Regions from separate parts of the Homo sapiens genome. Here region 2 is linked to region 1. A link means that fine-mapping ties the variant in region 1 to the expression of a gene that starts in the linked region. Tissue or cell type: Th1 cells. Region 1 holds a variant in brackets; the other region holds the start of a gene. All regions are shown on one strand. Distances are between the middles of the regions.

The links. PIP is the estimated chance that this variant, and not a neighbour inherited with it, causes the effect.
Region 2: it holds the start of LINC02145, and the variant in region 1 is fine-mapped to the expression of LINC02145 in Th1 cells (Schmiedel 2018, PIP 0.95).

The regions. Positions count from the first base shown.
Region 1 is chr5:6,385,045-6,393,044 of GRCh38, forward strand. No RefSeq gene overlaps it. Among named protein-coding and RNA genes, the nearest start is that of MED10, 10 kb to the left of the region's middle. The variant A/AATGATG (reference allele first, on the strand shown) is at 3,115.
Region 2 is chr5:6,334,098-6,342,097 of GRCh38, forward strand. LINC02145 (long intergenic non-protein coding RNA 2145) reads right to left here and starts at 3,195. Exons shown (of 2, transcript NR_028351.1): 1 at 3,053-3,195.

The DNA of each region.
Region 1 (8,000 bases):
GCTGTTCCTTGGCTGGCAGAAGCATCCCTCCTCTCCACCTCCAGCTTCACGCGGTGTTGTCCCTGTGTGTGTCTCTGTGGCCAAAATTTCCCCTTTTCATGAGGACGCCAGTCGGGTTGGATTAGAGCCCACCCTGATGACTGGAGTTTTTCACTGAATTACCTCTGTGAAGATGCCATCTCCAAATCAGGTTGCGTTTGGAGGCGCTGGAGGTCAGGACTCCAACATATCTTTTTTGAGGGGATATAACTCAACTGTAACACCCCTCCTTCTCTGCTCAAGACCAGCAGCACTCGTTGTCTGTATTGTGATCGCGGGATGTTTAATTCAGGACCAGGCCATAACGAGCATAATGATGGTGTTAGTCCCTGTGATTAACCATCAGCTACAGTTTCTAAAGCACTCATCTCCCAGTTGTCCACAATGACTACTCCAGTGAAGATTGTTCCCTGCTGAAACAAAAAGCATCCCAAGCCCACTTAAACCTACATTGAGACCGGGCACGGTGGCTCACGCCTGTAATCCCAGCATTTTGGGAGTCCGAGGTAGGCAGATCACGAGGTCAAGAGATCAAGACCATCCTGGCCAACATGGTGAAACCCCCGTCTCTACTAAAAATGCAAAAATTAGCTGGGTGTGGTGGCAGGTGCCTGTAATTCCAGCTACTTAAGAGGCTGAAGCAGGAGAATCGCTTGAACCCAAGAGGCGGAGGTTGCAGTGAGCCGAGATCGCGCCACTGCACTCCAGCCTGGAGACAGAGCGAGACTCCGTCTCAAAAAAAAAAATAAATAAACAAAAAGATAAACAAACAAAAAACCTACATTGAAATTCTTCCTTTTACTCAAACAGCTAAGTAATGGCTGCTTTCCCTTTATTTAGCAACATAATACTGTTGGCTTGTTTATAAGAAACGTTTTAACATTTCAACACTCCAGTCCCCAAATGTAAATGAAATTAGGTTGGAAAATTCCAGTAAGTCAGAAGGTCGGCCTGGTAGGAAGCCGTGTGCAGAAAGCCTACAGAGCATTGCTGACTATACGTTTTGTCGCCTTGTTTTCCCTCCGAAGTCGACATGAGCTGCCCCTAGGAAATTTCCTTACTTCTGATACTTGGTGACCTTGAAATCTGGAGGCTGTTTTTTCCCTTCTTCTTTACCTTTTTTTTTTTTTCATTCACACTATTATCGCTCCATCAGCATCCAAAGCCCTTAGTGGTATCATTTGGAACATGTTTTGCCATTCATTCTAATTTATTCTAAGAGCCAGATTCAGCTTAAGTTTAAAAAAAAAAAATGCAGCTCTCCTACCCAGAGGAAGGAACAGCTGGTTTCTGCTTCTCACTTTGAAGATTTTCAGCACATTAGTAGTTCTAGCAGAAGGGAAGATTTGCAACTCTGTTGTTTGATGATGATGGTGATGATGATGACGGTGATGATGGTGATGGTCATGATCATACTGATGACAATATCTGCCATTTTGGAACATATTTTATAGATTATAGACTGTCTCATTTATTCTTCATAACCCTAAAGGAAGCTACTATAATTTGAACCATATGTGGTCAAAAGAAAGCCAAAAAAGTATCCCTAAATACAGAATTAGGAGACAGAATAATTTCATCTGATAGAAAATGCTGACATTATTTTCCCTCAAGAGCTACATTGACACATGAATGTTCAAATAAATTAGGTTTCCCGTTCATTCTATTAGATTCACATACCAATGAGAGTGCCTGACTTGTGCAATAAAAAAATAGAAATTGTATCTTTTTTTACACTAACAAGCATTGAGAAGCCGTAAGATTTCTCTTCTCTTCTGTTTTCCTTTCTATGCAATATTTGCAGCAATGTGCAGCTCTACCTGGAATTCTGTGTGATGTATGTGATCAAATTTTTAAAAGCAAAAAGATGAGATTACACTAATACAGACTGGCATGTGATCCAATCAGCAAATGGAAGTATGCAGTTGGCTTTCACTATCAGCTTTGTTTTTTTGTTGTTGTTGTTGTTGTTTTGTTGTTTTTTTTTTTTTACAAATTGTCACAAGCTCAAAAGAGAGGGCAGGACAGCATTACAGAAATAGGGATAAGGTAAGACATCTAACTCCTTAGCAGATTATACACACAAGCATAGAAATACAAACTTTTCTAGGCTGCATAGCAACTTCACCCTCCTGGGTCTTTCGGCACACGGTGTAAGCCCTGTTATCTCATAGCGTTTTGTAAAAATTAATGACTTTCAGTTGAAGTCTAAGTTTGTCTTAAACACTCCAAAGAGAAATGAGCTATGCTCAATTTCTCTTCTCACATATGCTCTTCTCATTGTGGATGACCCAGAAAACAAAGTCTTACCTTGCAGAAAATCGTGGTGCACGCAGGCCTGGAACACCTGCTCCGGTTCTGATCAAGAAAGACAGATAACCAGGAGACTGTACAGCAGAAAGCATCTGAAAAAAGCAAAAAGAAAGCGCTTTTTCAGAAAACTAAGTAAGAATATATGAAAATTCTTCATTATGGAGGATGGAAGCTCAGAGGAGACAGGACCAACATCTGCACAACTTTGAACAAATACCTGGCTATTAATACGCAAGACAAGAGAACTGGGCTCACCTCCTTCACTTTCTAGAAGGTGGCTGTAGTTTCGTTAGTCCACGTCCTCTGAGGAGCAGATCCCAGGATGGGATTAAACAAGAACTTTCTTAGAAGAAATACATGTGACAGAAAAAGGGAACCAGCATGGCTGGAAGAACCATCAGAACAAAATGCAGGTCTGATCCCAAAAGAAGGGAGGGAGAGAGGGAGGGAAGGAAGGAGGGAGGGAGGGAGGAAACAAAGGGAGTCTAGAAGCATCTTAGACTGTGGTACAGTCCTAAGGAGAGTTTGGTAAGACCACTGAGAAGCCCCCAAACCAAAATCGCTCACCAGCAGAGTCCCCAGGAATGGACAAACCTTAGCCTTCCTGCATCACTCACTCAGTCATTGGCTGAGCAGCCCATGGAGGCAAAAAGTGCAATAGATTTCAAAGGAGAGCATTAGGGCCCTTGGTTAATTCTGCCCTTACCATCAGATATCTGAAAGATGCATTCTTGTGGGTGCCACATTAGGATAAGCAACAGT[A/AATGATG]ATGATGATGATGATGATGATGATGATGATGATGATGATGCCATTTATTGACAACCTATCCAAAGTCAAGGATTGTACTAGGTATTTTACATATATTAAATATAATTATCAAAAACAATCCTCCCTAGGCTGGGTATGATTGCTCCCCATTTTCTCATGAAGAAATTGAAACTTGGGTAAATATTTTGCCAAGAAAGGGTGTAGAGTTGAGTATCTGATCCTTCAGGCATCATATTCTTACCACAGCAAACAAATGAGAGAATTTTTGCTTCTGCAATAAGAAATAGAGTTCGCTGAATTTATTAAGCTAAAAAGTTGAGTGTTTGGTGGGTTTTTTTGGGGGGGGGGTTGTTTTTACAATATAAATTTTTGTTTACAATATAAATAAATGCAGCATTCATTCTACTTAATTCATAAATGACAATGTTGGAAACTAGAGGGCCGGGCGCGGTGGCTCACGCCTGTAATCCCAGCACTTTGGGAGGCCGAGGCGGGCGGATCACGAGGTCAGGAGATCGAGACCATCCCGGCTAAAAAACGGTGAAACCCCGTCTCTACTAAAAAAATACAAAAAATTAGCCGGGCGTAGTGGCGGGCGCCTGTAGTCCCAGCTACTTGGGAGGCTGAGGCAGGAGAATGGCGTGAACCCGGGAGGCGGAGCTTGCAGTGAGCCGAGATCCCGCCACTGCACTCCAGCCTGGGCGACAGAGCGAGACTCCGTCTCAAAAAAAAAAAAAAAAAAAAAAAGAAACTAGAGCCATTGTACTTTCCCACCAAGGAGCTCATGACCACACTGAGCCCTCAGTGACCCCAAATGGCATTTCTTATGTCCCCCTGGCTGTCTAAAGTGGAGCTCAGGTATGGCCAGGAAGGGACGCAGCCCCAGTACTTCTTTGGTATATGACTTTGGCCCATTTCTAGAATTGTCTTGGTCTTCAGTGAGATGGAGCAGGGACTCCTCCTAGGGGCCTGCAGGTCACCCCCTGCCCAGTGAAGAAATAAAGAAAACTCTTAAGTTCCTTCAGGAAAAATTCCAGGCACCTAGCTCACACTGAAAAATAACTGAATAAACAAAAAGATAATAGTAGCTTAAAACAGTAGCCAAAAAAGTTAGTCAAGAGATATGTTATTCCCTATAAAAACTGAAAATAACACCTTAACATATGTCCCTGAGTTATTTTTCAAAAACCTGAACCCCCACCAAACAGATTTGCTAACACATAGACCTCAAATTAAGGGAAACTAAAAACTAAACTCTGGTCACTGTTCTTTGTTCTAAATTTCTTCCTAAGGGGCCTGGGAACGTCACACCCACAAGTTAGAGCTATCAGTTTGGTGCAAAAGTAATTGCAGGTTTTTTTTTTTTTTTTTTTTGCTGTTACTTTCAGTGGCAAAACGTGCAATTTTGCACCAACCTAATAACATTGTTTTCTGCTGATCCCACATTTTTAGACAAAGCTTTGCCTCCTTAGCCAATCACAGATCAGAAATCTTTAAATCCACCTATAACCTGTGGGCCCCCAACTTCCAGTTGTCCTACGTTTTTAGGTCAAACCAACGTATAGTCTCCATATTTGAATTTATGACTTTACTTGTAACCTCTGCCTCCACGTTGGTAAAAACCCTCACCTATGAGCCATCTGGGAGTTGGGTCTTGAACATGGGATGCCTGATTTTCCTTGCTTGGGGCCCTACATAAACGCCTCACTTTCTCTTGCTACTATCCCAACATCAGTCTTTGACTTCGCTGCACCCAGTGAACAGATCCCTGCTGGATTCACTTACATCAGATTTCTCCTCCTGGAAATAGAAGAAATGTGCCTATTGATGTGTGGAGCATCTCGCATGGCACCTGGAATGTAGAAGGCATTTGGTAAACGTGGCTTCCTTCTATCAGTTTCTACCCAAAATGTGCAAAGCCAAGCTTTCCTTTTTGTGCTGTATACTGGCTCCTTCTTCCAAAAATGTATTTGATGATGTCATTCCTCAACCTAAAACCTCCTGACATCACCCCGCTGTCTACACCAGGGATGTTAAAATCCTCTCTCTGCATAGCCCCATCCCCATGACCATGTACTCACTCTATTACCCCAATTCTCTGGGTGAGGCAGGAGGAGAGGAGTGGGTGCATGTGCCCCTGGCAGAGGGAAAGGATTCTCGGAGGGGTGAGACAAGTAGTGTGAAAAGAGTCGACCTCCAGGAAGCTGCTCTGCAGCCCTCATTTCTCCTTTGAGAATCGCTGGTCCTCAGAACAAGTTCTAAATCCTTACCACCTGATCTGATACCACCTTCCCACTGACCAGTGCCCTACAGCCTCATGGGACCCTCACCAATCCCGCCTCTTTGCCTTTGCTGGTTTCTTTTCTCTGCTTTAAAGTCTTCTTCCATACCTTCTGCTTTACTTGGGGAAATCTGAAATAAATGTCAGCATGTTGGTGAAGCTTTTGCTTACTGCCTCAGGCAGAATTAATAGCTTCCTGGTCAGCTCTGACACATCTGGGCCCTGTTCCCTCCTCAGAGGTAGAGAATCTGCTAGAGGCTGAGAACCGTCTCCACCTTTAGACAGAATGCGTTTAGTGGTTACTGCCTGCATCCCAATGAAACCTGCTCTGCCCTTCTGCCATAGAAATGGAATTGAAGCCAGACCCATTGCTACCCACTGTCTGTGTTTCCCGTTGGTATGGTTTGGCTGTGTCTTCCCACCATTCTCATCTTGGATTGTAGTTCCCATAATCCCCACGTGTCATGAGAGGGACTCGGTGGGAGGTAATTGAATCATGGGGGCAGTTTTCCCCATGCTATTCTCATGATGGTAAGTTCTCATGAGATCTGATGGTTTTATAAGGGGCTTCCCCCATCACTCGATTCTCATTCTTCTCTCTCCTGCTGTCTTGTGAAGAAGGATGTATTTGTGTCCCCTTCTGCCATGATTATAAGTTTCCCAAGGCCTCCCCAGACCTGTGGAACTGCGAGTCAATTAAACCTCTTTCCCTTATAAATTGCCCAGTCTCAGGTATGTCCTTATAGCAGTGTGAGAACAGACTAACACACCCAGGCTTCCCTGAAGTGAGCTGTGGCCTTTGCACTAAGGGATGGGAGCAGGAATGATGGGTATCTGCTCGGGGTGGGAACATGAGGCATCAGGTGCATCTTCTTCAGGCTGTCCCTGATGTGCTGGTGATTGGTCCCACCAGGCAGGTGACAGTACCCCAGAGCAGTGGAACACTCTGAGATAATAGAAGTGTTTTGAGATCTGTGCTGTCCAACACGCGAGCCACTAGACACTTGAGCTATGGCTAGTGCAACTAGGAACTGAAATTTCAATTGTCTTTAAATGTATTTAAATTAATTAAAATTAAAATAGTCACATGTCACCAGCGGCAACTGTATCAGCCAGTAGAGCCCCTGAGGATGGAGGAGCAATGGTTTGGAAGGAACATGGATCTTAGAATGCCCAGTGGAGCAGAGATTCTCCACCTAAATGGATTACTTATCTCAGAACAGTTGAGTGAGAGAAAAACAAGGCAATGTTTTAGGACAGTTAGGAAGATAGTATCAATAGTATGACATAATGGGTATATCAGGGACTTGGGGCTCACCTTTTGAGTTCAAATCCTAGCCCTACCACTTAATAACTGTATGGCCTTGGGCAAATGACTTCATTTCCGTGTGCCCCAGAATTCTCCTCACTGCACTGGGGACACTGAGTCCACGTATCACCTGGGTTTGTTGTGAGAATCAAATGAAGTAATAAATGTAAAACACTTAGAATATGGCATCCCCATTTGTTAGCTACTGTGATGACATTTGAGGTCTCTGTTACAGCATCTTAGCTTTGCACGAATGCACCTGGCTTTGCATCACGGCTCCCACATCTACCACTCGGGTGCCATTTGTTTTCTCAGGTTCTTGGGGGTGATGCGAGTGAAGTACTGAGTGCTGTGTCTGGCCCCCATCAAGCACTCAATGTTGGTAGTCACCCTTATATAAAGTGTCATGTTGTCATATCAGTATCTGTTTGGATGTCTCCCTTGGAGGTGTCTCTAGGATAGGGACTGTCATTTCTCTTTTTGTTCTTCATTGATTAGCACAGTGAAGGTACTCGGTACATGGTTACTGAATGATTGGCTGATTGCATAAATAACTCTTCTAGTGTTAGTTTACCTGAAAACCCAATACTGTACCTATTGAGGCTTCTGAGGTGTCCCCTGGCCATCAAATCCCTATGGTACTCTAACAGCAGCATGGCCAAACAAAGGCATTCTGTCCCTGCTGCCCAGATCCTTCCTCACCCTTTACCTTTGCAACACTGAGCGGAACGGCTCTTCACGGGGATGGCCACTCACCCAGGCATCATTAGGAAAGGTGAGGGGGTGTTTTTCGGTGTCACAACACCTGGATAACTGTGTTCTCCAGCTTCCTCTTGCTGCTGTAGCAAATTACTGCAAATGCAGTGGCTTAAACAACACACACTCAGTCCATAAATTCTGAAGGTGAGAACTCTGAAGTGAGTGTCATGGGACTAAAATCAAGCTGTTTGCAAAGCTGCACTCCTTCTGGGGGCTGCGGGGAGAATTGGCTTCCTGCCTTTCCCAGCTTCTGGGAGCTGCTGCATTCCTTGGCTCCCGGCCCCTCCTCCATCCACAAAGCTAGAAATCCCATCACTCTAGCCTCTCCTTCTGTCCTCACATCTCTCTCTCTCTCTCTGACTTTGCCTCTCCTGCCTTCCCCTTGCTTTCTAAGGGTCCTTGGCATGTTGTGTTACATTGTGCCCACCTGCATAATCCAAAATAACCTCCTGATGTGGTTTGGCTATGGCCCTACCCAAATCTCATGTCAAATTTTAACCCCCATATGTTAAGGGAAGAACCTGGTATGAAGTGATT
Region 2 (8,000 bases), 51 kb before region 1:
TTTGGCAAATGACAAGTGCTCCAAGGGGACCCGTGATACATTCTATCTAGGTCAGGGGTGGGCAAACCATTCCCCATGGGCCAAATGTGGCCACTTCCACTCACTGACCCATCTTCTGTGGCTGCTTTCACATTTCAATAGCAGAGCTGAGTAGCTGCAACAGGACCGCATGGCTGGCAAATATTTACTCTCTGGCCCCTTCCAGGAAAAGTGGCCAGCTCCTACTCTAGAGACCAGACTTCTAAGAAAAAAGTGAATCTTCAGGATGCAGATTTTCAGTAGCATACATGGGAGGACTTGAGAAAGAAAGGAACAGGCATGGAGATACTGAAGCCCCCTCTTCACAATGGTGAGTGACAGCTCATAGTCTCAGGAGTAATTGGTTGATAGAGGCAGACTCTAAGGCAATGAGATAGAAGGAAGAATATTTTTGATGAAGGGGCAGATGGAGGAACCTTTCCTAGTGTAGGAGAATCCCTCAGCAGAAGAGAAGCAGCGCCCATACCTGCATGGGGTGGAAAGAAAGGAGCAGGAGCCCCCAACAGCAACTAGGAGAACCACAGAGAAGCCAAAGAGAAGCTAAGAACTTGATCTTGTCTTGAATTTCTGTAGCATCTGAGACACTAGAGTTCAGTCCTGCATTAAGCTCAGGGTTTTCCAAACCAGTCAGTCCACACGGCCTTTCCACCTGGTAGCTGCCATTTCCATCCAGGCCCTGGAATTCATGAGGTTACCCTTTGGAGAATGCTGCATTCAACCTACCCACTCCCTTTACAGATTGGACAAACCCCCTTGACACCGTACCTCCGTGTGAACATCACACAGCAATTCATGGAAAGCGTGCACCCATTAGCAGGATGGGAGAGGCTGGAAACCAGCCCTGGCACATTCAAGATGCCCTCCTATGGGAGGAAGAATTGCAACAGCATTTTGTGCTCTGAATGCCCAGTCTATAGGAAGATGAACAGAATGTGCACTAAATATTTAGGCATCTGAGCTGTGGTAGCTCATGGCAGGAAGCCACGCTCACCTCCCAGGACCTGATTCTGCCATAATACACTGTCCCAGAACCACTATAGATCACCTCACCACTGGCTGAGGAAGACAAAGACAGGAGCTGAGTGTAGATGGGCAGCAGGCTCATCCTTGTCTCCCTTCTGCTGGCTGATGCACACCTTGTCCAGCTTGCTTAAGACACATGCTCCAACACCTGTCATTGTCAGGCATTAGATTCGTGGCCATGCCTGCTGTGCCCACCAAGCTGCCAGCACCACATGGCTGCTGCTCACTGGTGTGCGGTGTGTGCCCAGCCTGAGGGCCAGGCGAGCTCAGGACACAGACCTCCCAGTGCCAGCACATAGGAAGGCCCTGGTAGCTGGCCAGGGAGGCCTAAGCTCACTTCAGTCATCAGACACGAAGTTCCATTCTCTAAGGATATCATCTGGGAGGAGGTGAAGCCTTTCTGTCTTGAAGGTTGGGTCTACCTCCAGGTGTGAAGGAAGGACATTTCATATACAGGGGAAAGAGGTATTGGCCAAGAAATATGGAGCCCAGATTCAAAGGGGGACAGAGACCCCATCTCTTGATGGAAGGAGGGTCAAGGAATTTTAGAAACTTATTTTCCCCAAACTTCTAGAGTTGTTGACACCAGTTGTTTATTTGTCACATTGCTTATTTATTCACTTACTTATTCTTTAAAAGTTATTTTAAGCATAATTAAAGATATAATTCATCTCAGACTATTATCACGAGATTATTGTCTTATTATTACCTTCCACACTCCAAAGCCACCACCCTTGGATGACATAAATATCCAATGACTATTTATCAGAACCATAGGCATTTTTATCTACCTGTCACCTTGCAGGGTCAACATTTACAAACACGTCGTTATTACAGGAACACAGAATAAGATAATGATCTTATTATCAAGACCACAGATAATAATCGTGGCTCGTTGAAGCCCTTTGAACCCAACAGCTGTGGGCCCATCTGGAGCTAGTGGCCTTACTTCTCTAGATCAGATTTGCACACTTTGAAAACTGCAGCAGTTAGGAAGCTGCAGCATCCCACAGGGGGAAGCAGCTCAACAGCCAGAGCTGGGCTGAGAAGCGGGTATCTGGAAGCTTGCTCCTTAATGCCTCCTGAGGAAGCGCTGGGCACACACCTGGCACAGCCCACATGCAAGAGTTAGCACCACCCGCACACATAGTGCTCAGCTGTTCCTTTGGCAGCACTGTTGTTAGCAATGTGTGACCGCATTGGGAGGGGGTCTGAGTACCATGGAGGTGACTGAGATGCTCTGTACCTCTGTTACTTAGCACAGTGCAGGGCAGGAAGCAGGAAACTCAACAGATGTCTATTCAATGATTGATGGGCAGCTGCCAAGCAACTTCCAGAGTAGGGGGTCCCATGATGCAGATCCCTCCTCCCCACCCACTCCATGTCAGCCTTATTTCAGGCCTCACAACATCCCACTTGAAATATTAACTGAGCTCTTGGCCTCAGTCATCGTGTTCTCCTGTCACCACTGCACCATCTCAAAGTGGCCCTTCCTACCCCACTAGGCTTCCCACTGCCCCGCACACAGCCAAAGCCCTGCCCTCACAGCCTGGCCCTCCAGATGTCTGCAGCCTGGGCCCCATCTGTCTTCAGACTTCGCTTCCCATAAAGTTTCCTCATCTGGCTTTTGGTTTTGTTTCACAAATAAGCCACACACACATGCACACACAAAGAGGTACATGCACACACAAAGAGGTACATGCACACATGTGCAAACATCTGTGACCACAGACCCAGATGCCAGCACACACGTGCACACACACTCATGCTTCCAGGTGCAAATACACATACATACACACACACACACACACACACACCAGCTCCATACTTTAAACCTCTTTCCCCTGTATATGAAATGTCCTTCCTTCACACCTGGAGGTAGACCCAACCTTCAAGACAGAAAGGCTCCACCTCCTCCCAGATGATCTTCTTCCCAAGTTGCAATTGAGTTCTCCCTCCCCATTTCTCTATACAGCGGCAACAGACTCACCATCACGATACCATTGCCGTCTTCTCTCAATGCAGGTGCCGTCCATGCTGTGAGTCCCTGGAGAGCAGCAGGGATACTTTTTACAGCTTTTTCGATGCTCACTTACGGCCCCCAGCAGAGAGCACCTCAGCAGGTGCTCCAAGAACGATGTTGCCTTGGAAAGGTAGCGAGGCCCTGAAACACAGAGAATAAGGGCAAAGTCTGGGCTGCTCTCAGAGCCTCAGGGCCCTGCCACCCCAAAGTCCTAGGACAGGGAGCGTGTCCTCTAACTTTTCTCTCTCCCTGCACTTTATCTCCACCAGGAATTCTCAACCTTTTTTGTTCTAATAGAGCTCTCTTCAACCGCCTGAAAAAGTTCCTAATCCTTTTATAAAATATTGTCTTAAAATGCACATAATAGGCTGGGCACAGTGGCTCCTGCCTGTAATCCCAACACTATGGGAAGCCGAGGCAGGTGGATCACTTGATGTCAGGAATTCGAGACCAGCCTGGCCAATATGGTGAAACCCCGTCTCTACTAAAAATACAAAAATAAGCCAGGCATGGTGGTGCACGCCTGTAATCCCAGCTACTCAGGAGGCTGAGGCAAGGAGAATCACTTGAACCAGGGAGGCGGAGGTTGCAGTGAGCGGAGATCATGCCATTGAACTCCAGCCTGGGCAACAGAGTGAGACTCCATCTCAAAAAAAAAAAAAAAAGAAATGCACAAAATAAATATTACAAAGGGCCTGAGTGATGCTGAAATCCAGCTCTGCGTTCACACTTGAGTTGGGGGATGGCAGGTTCCCCAGCACCGTGTGCTCCCAGGTTCCCAGCAAATGTGAGCTCACTCTCCCTGGAGCCCTTGCCCTGGGTCCTGATCACCAGCCCCCTCTGGTTGATCTTCCCTCAGGTAGGAAGTAGCCCTGAGGAGGGGGAGCACAGAGGAGTTGTGGGCAGGGGTGCAGAAGGAGAAAATATGTTGAGGACAACAGCATCAGAGGCCAAAGGCAGACTCTGGCTGCTGGTCTGCACAGACCACCATCTATGGGTTGCAGAATCTGGGTGGACACGTAAGGAGAGGAGGGAAAAGAGAGAGAAAAAAAAAACTGTCACAGGCAAGCACAAAGAGTAGCTGCCCTCAATTAGGGCTAGTAAAGAATTGTTCCCACTGCACGGGGTTTTCCAACTGCAATCTTTGGGCTTGTGAAGCATTTTCTCTGCATCTGTTGTTGATGCCATTAAGTAGAATGAGTCACTGTATATATTAAGCACTAAGACCAGCAGCGACATAAGTCTATGAATTCAATGATCATGCCAGCTTTAAGTAGAAAAGGAGCTTTTTTTTTTTTATTAAACCAGTGGCAAAGCAGAGGAAATCAAGTAATTTTTACATTATAAGATTTTTGCTTTTTTTTATACTGTGTCTATTTCCTTTTAATGACAGTTATCAAAAGTCACTTTTGGGAAAAGGCTTTGAAATTGAATAGAAAAATCTCATGCATTTACTTTTCCTGTTTTTCTGAAATTCAAATAAGATGTGAGCGACAGGCGCTGAGTGCTCCAGCCCCCATGCTCAGCAATCGCAAGCTTTCTTCAGACCTCTCTTTGCAAGCTCGGGAGGAGACCAGAGAGGTTCCTTAGGAGGATCCCTGGCTGGAATCTAGGCCAGGAAGCCAACAGCAAAATGTGTTTGGGGTGAGCATCTGTGTTTGGGGCCTTCTGGCATGGTAACACTCTGACCTGGGGTGTTCGACATCACTTGTGCTCTCAGCACAGCTTCCAGAACAAGCCAATGGCCCCAACAAAGGACAAAGGGTCCAGAACCATGTGACCAGAAAAGGAAGACAGCCAGGTGTATTTGACAGCTCCCAGAATGACCTGGCCAGACACTCAGAAGGCCACGGAAGCTTCGCTCAGGCATGCTGCCAGTGTGTGTTTATGTCCCAAACCCTCACACAGCATTTGCTACCTGACTGGCCTTTGGCAAAGGGCTTTAGAGATGTTCCCCCAAGTCCCACATGGCACAGAGGGCAGGTGCGCATGCTGTGACAATTTCACAGGTGAGGAAAGGGAGGCCCAGGGAGCTTACAGAGCTCATGAGAGGTGCAGCCAGGATGTGAGCCCAGCCAGCTGGCCCCACAGCCTGTGCCCATGTGTGACAGGTGCCCCTCTGCCCCTTTCGTGGGGTCACATTGCCTAGTTGCATCAGAAACTTAACCCAACCTTACAGCTTGGTGTGTGGGTGGGCAGTGGAGGGTGGTGCAGGCGGCATCTCCTTACCTCTGATGCAGCATCCACCAGAAAAGCTGCAGAGAGTGTGGAAGGCAGAACAGTACTTCCAAAAAAAAACTAAAAACATCCAAGTCCTGATCTCCAGACCTGTGCCTATGTTAGGTAACGTGGCAAGGCGACACTGAGGTTGCAGATGGAATCAGCAGGCCTTGAAAGAGGGCACTTGTCCTGGATGGTCTTCATGTCCTCAGTGTAATCACAAAACTCCTCAAAAGTGAAAAGAGGGTCAGGGTCAGAGGAAGATATGACTATGGAGAAAGGCACAGAGAAACGCACACTGCCAGCTCTGAAGACAGAAGGGTCCACAAGCCACTAGCCGAGGAAAGCAGGAGCCTCTAGAAGCTGGGAAAGGCAAGGACCAGATATTCCCCTGGAGCTACAGAAGGGACCCGCCCTATCGACACCTCCACTTTAACCCAGGGGGACAGTGCCGGGCTTCCAACCTCAGGACTGTAAAACAATAAAATTGTGAGCCGGTGTGGTGGTTCATGCCTGTAATCCCAGCACTTTGGGAGGCCAAGGCAGGTGGATTACTTGAGTTCAGGGGTCTGAAACCAGCCTGTGCAACACAGTGAAACCCTTGTCTCTACAAAAAGTACAAAAATCAGACGTGTGTGGTGGCGTATGCCTGTGGTCCCGGCTACTCAAGGGGCTGAGGTGGGAGGATTGCTTGAGCCCAGGAAGTAGAGGCTGTAATAAGCCAAGATATCACTACTACACTCCAGCCTGCGCAACAGAGCAAGACCCTGTCTAAAAAAAATAAATAAATGAATAAATTTTTAAAAATAAAATTGTATTGTTAAGCTGCTAGTAAGTGGATCAGTCAGTATTCAAGCCAGGTGGTGTTAAGCATTGTGTCCCTGGGATGAGTCATCATTCATAATCATTGATGAAAGTTTTAAATGTTAAGTATAACTTGGAATGATTCTACTGTATTGTTAATAACTTACAGTTATCATGAATCACTAGGCCAAAATATGCTATTGTTAGGAGAAAAAATTTCACCTCTACCACTTGGGTCCCATGCTTGGGGGCCTGCAAATTAACTGAAGATAGATTAACAGGAGAAAAGGCAAGGTTTATTTACATGTGCACGTGGGAGTTGCTCAGCCATAAGTAACTTGCAGAATAATGTGAAGGTTTATATGAGGGGACAGTGCATGTCCTTGCACCTTCACTTTGGACTTGACCACATGATTTGTTCCAAGCAATGGGATGCACATAAAGTGACAGTGTGCCAGATACAAGCAGAGGCTTTAAAAGGCATCATTTGCTTCTGCTGTCCTTCCTGACTTCTACCTTGCACCCTGAGGAAAGCATGCCCCAGGGTGTAACTTCTCTGCCAGCCTGGGTCCTGGGTGAGAAGAAGGGTGGCCCAAAGGAGTCCAGCCAAGAGGAGCAGCTTAGAAGCTGCAGCCAGCCTCAGACCCCAGAGTGAGAAACAAACATTTGCAGTTGCAAGCTACAGAGATGTCTGGACTACCTGTTACTGCGGCAGAAGCTAACTACCACAAGAACACGTAGATTTTTGGCCTAAGCAACAGTGAGGATGATGGTGCAACTTGCTAATTTGAGTTGCAGCAAGTGGGGTGGGAAGGGGGAAATTAAGATTTCATTTTAGAATACACTTAGCAAATAGCAACACCTCCCATGCTATGAAGGATAAGATACAAGACACAACTTTCATACTCCTTGCATTTGGAGAATAATACAATTATTTGTATTTGGAATTTAATATCCCAAATAAACATTCATATCCTTTACACTCAACCTGTTCATTGTCAAACATTTTGTTCCCTGAAATTGCTTAATTCACATTTATTCAAAAAGAAAGTGCATTTGGAGTTAAAACTAGTTTTACCCAAGAGGGTCTAAAGAGCTTAAAAATAGAAATGGGATTATGCCAGGATGAAACCCATTAACAACTCAGCTGAGTGAGGTCAGTGGGGGAGTGAGCCTAGGAGCTCCAAGTAGGGAAGAGAGCCCCCATCATCATACCCGGATCATCAGGAGAAATGACATCCACATGGATGGCACACTCTAAAGACAGCCAAGGGAAACTTTGCCAAAAAAGCAGAAGATTTTTTTTTCTTTTTCATCAAGATAATGCCACTTTAACCAAGAAAAGGAACAGATTTTGTTTGAAAACCCTAACTGGATATTTGGTTATTAATAATGTTATATCATATTAATACTTTTATATCATTTTCATTCACCATCTACCATATTTCCCATGTAATGATATAATCTTCATAACTAGAATTTTAATGGCTGCCCAATGAATAGCTATATCATAATGTTGGGGGTTTTTTGTTTGTTTGTTTTGTTTTGTTTTTTCAGATGGAGTCTCACTCTTTCACCCCAGCTGGAGTGCAGTGGCACAGTCTTGACTCACTGCAACCTCCACTCCTGAGGTTCAAGCAATTCCCCTTCCTCAGCCACTTAAGTAGCTGGGATTACAGGCACCCACCACCAAGCCCAACTAATTTTTGTATTTTTAGTAGAGACGGGTTTCATCATGTTGGCCAGGCTGGTCTCGAACTCCTGACCTCGTTGTCCATTCACCTCTGCCTCCCAAAGTGCTGAGATTACAGGCGTGAGCCACTGCACCTGGCCGTGTATTTTTAATTTATCTTATTTTGTAACTTAGCTTTTTCTACCAAAAAATAGGCAT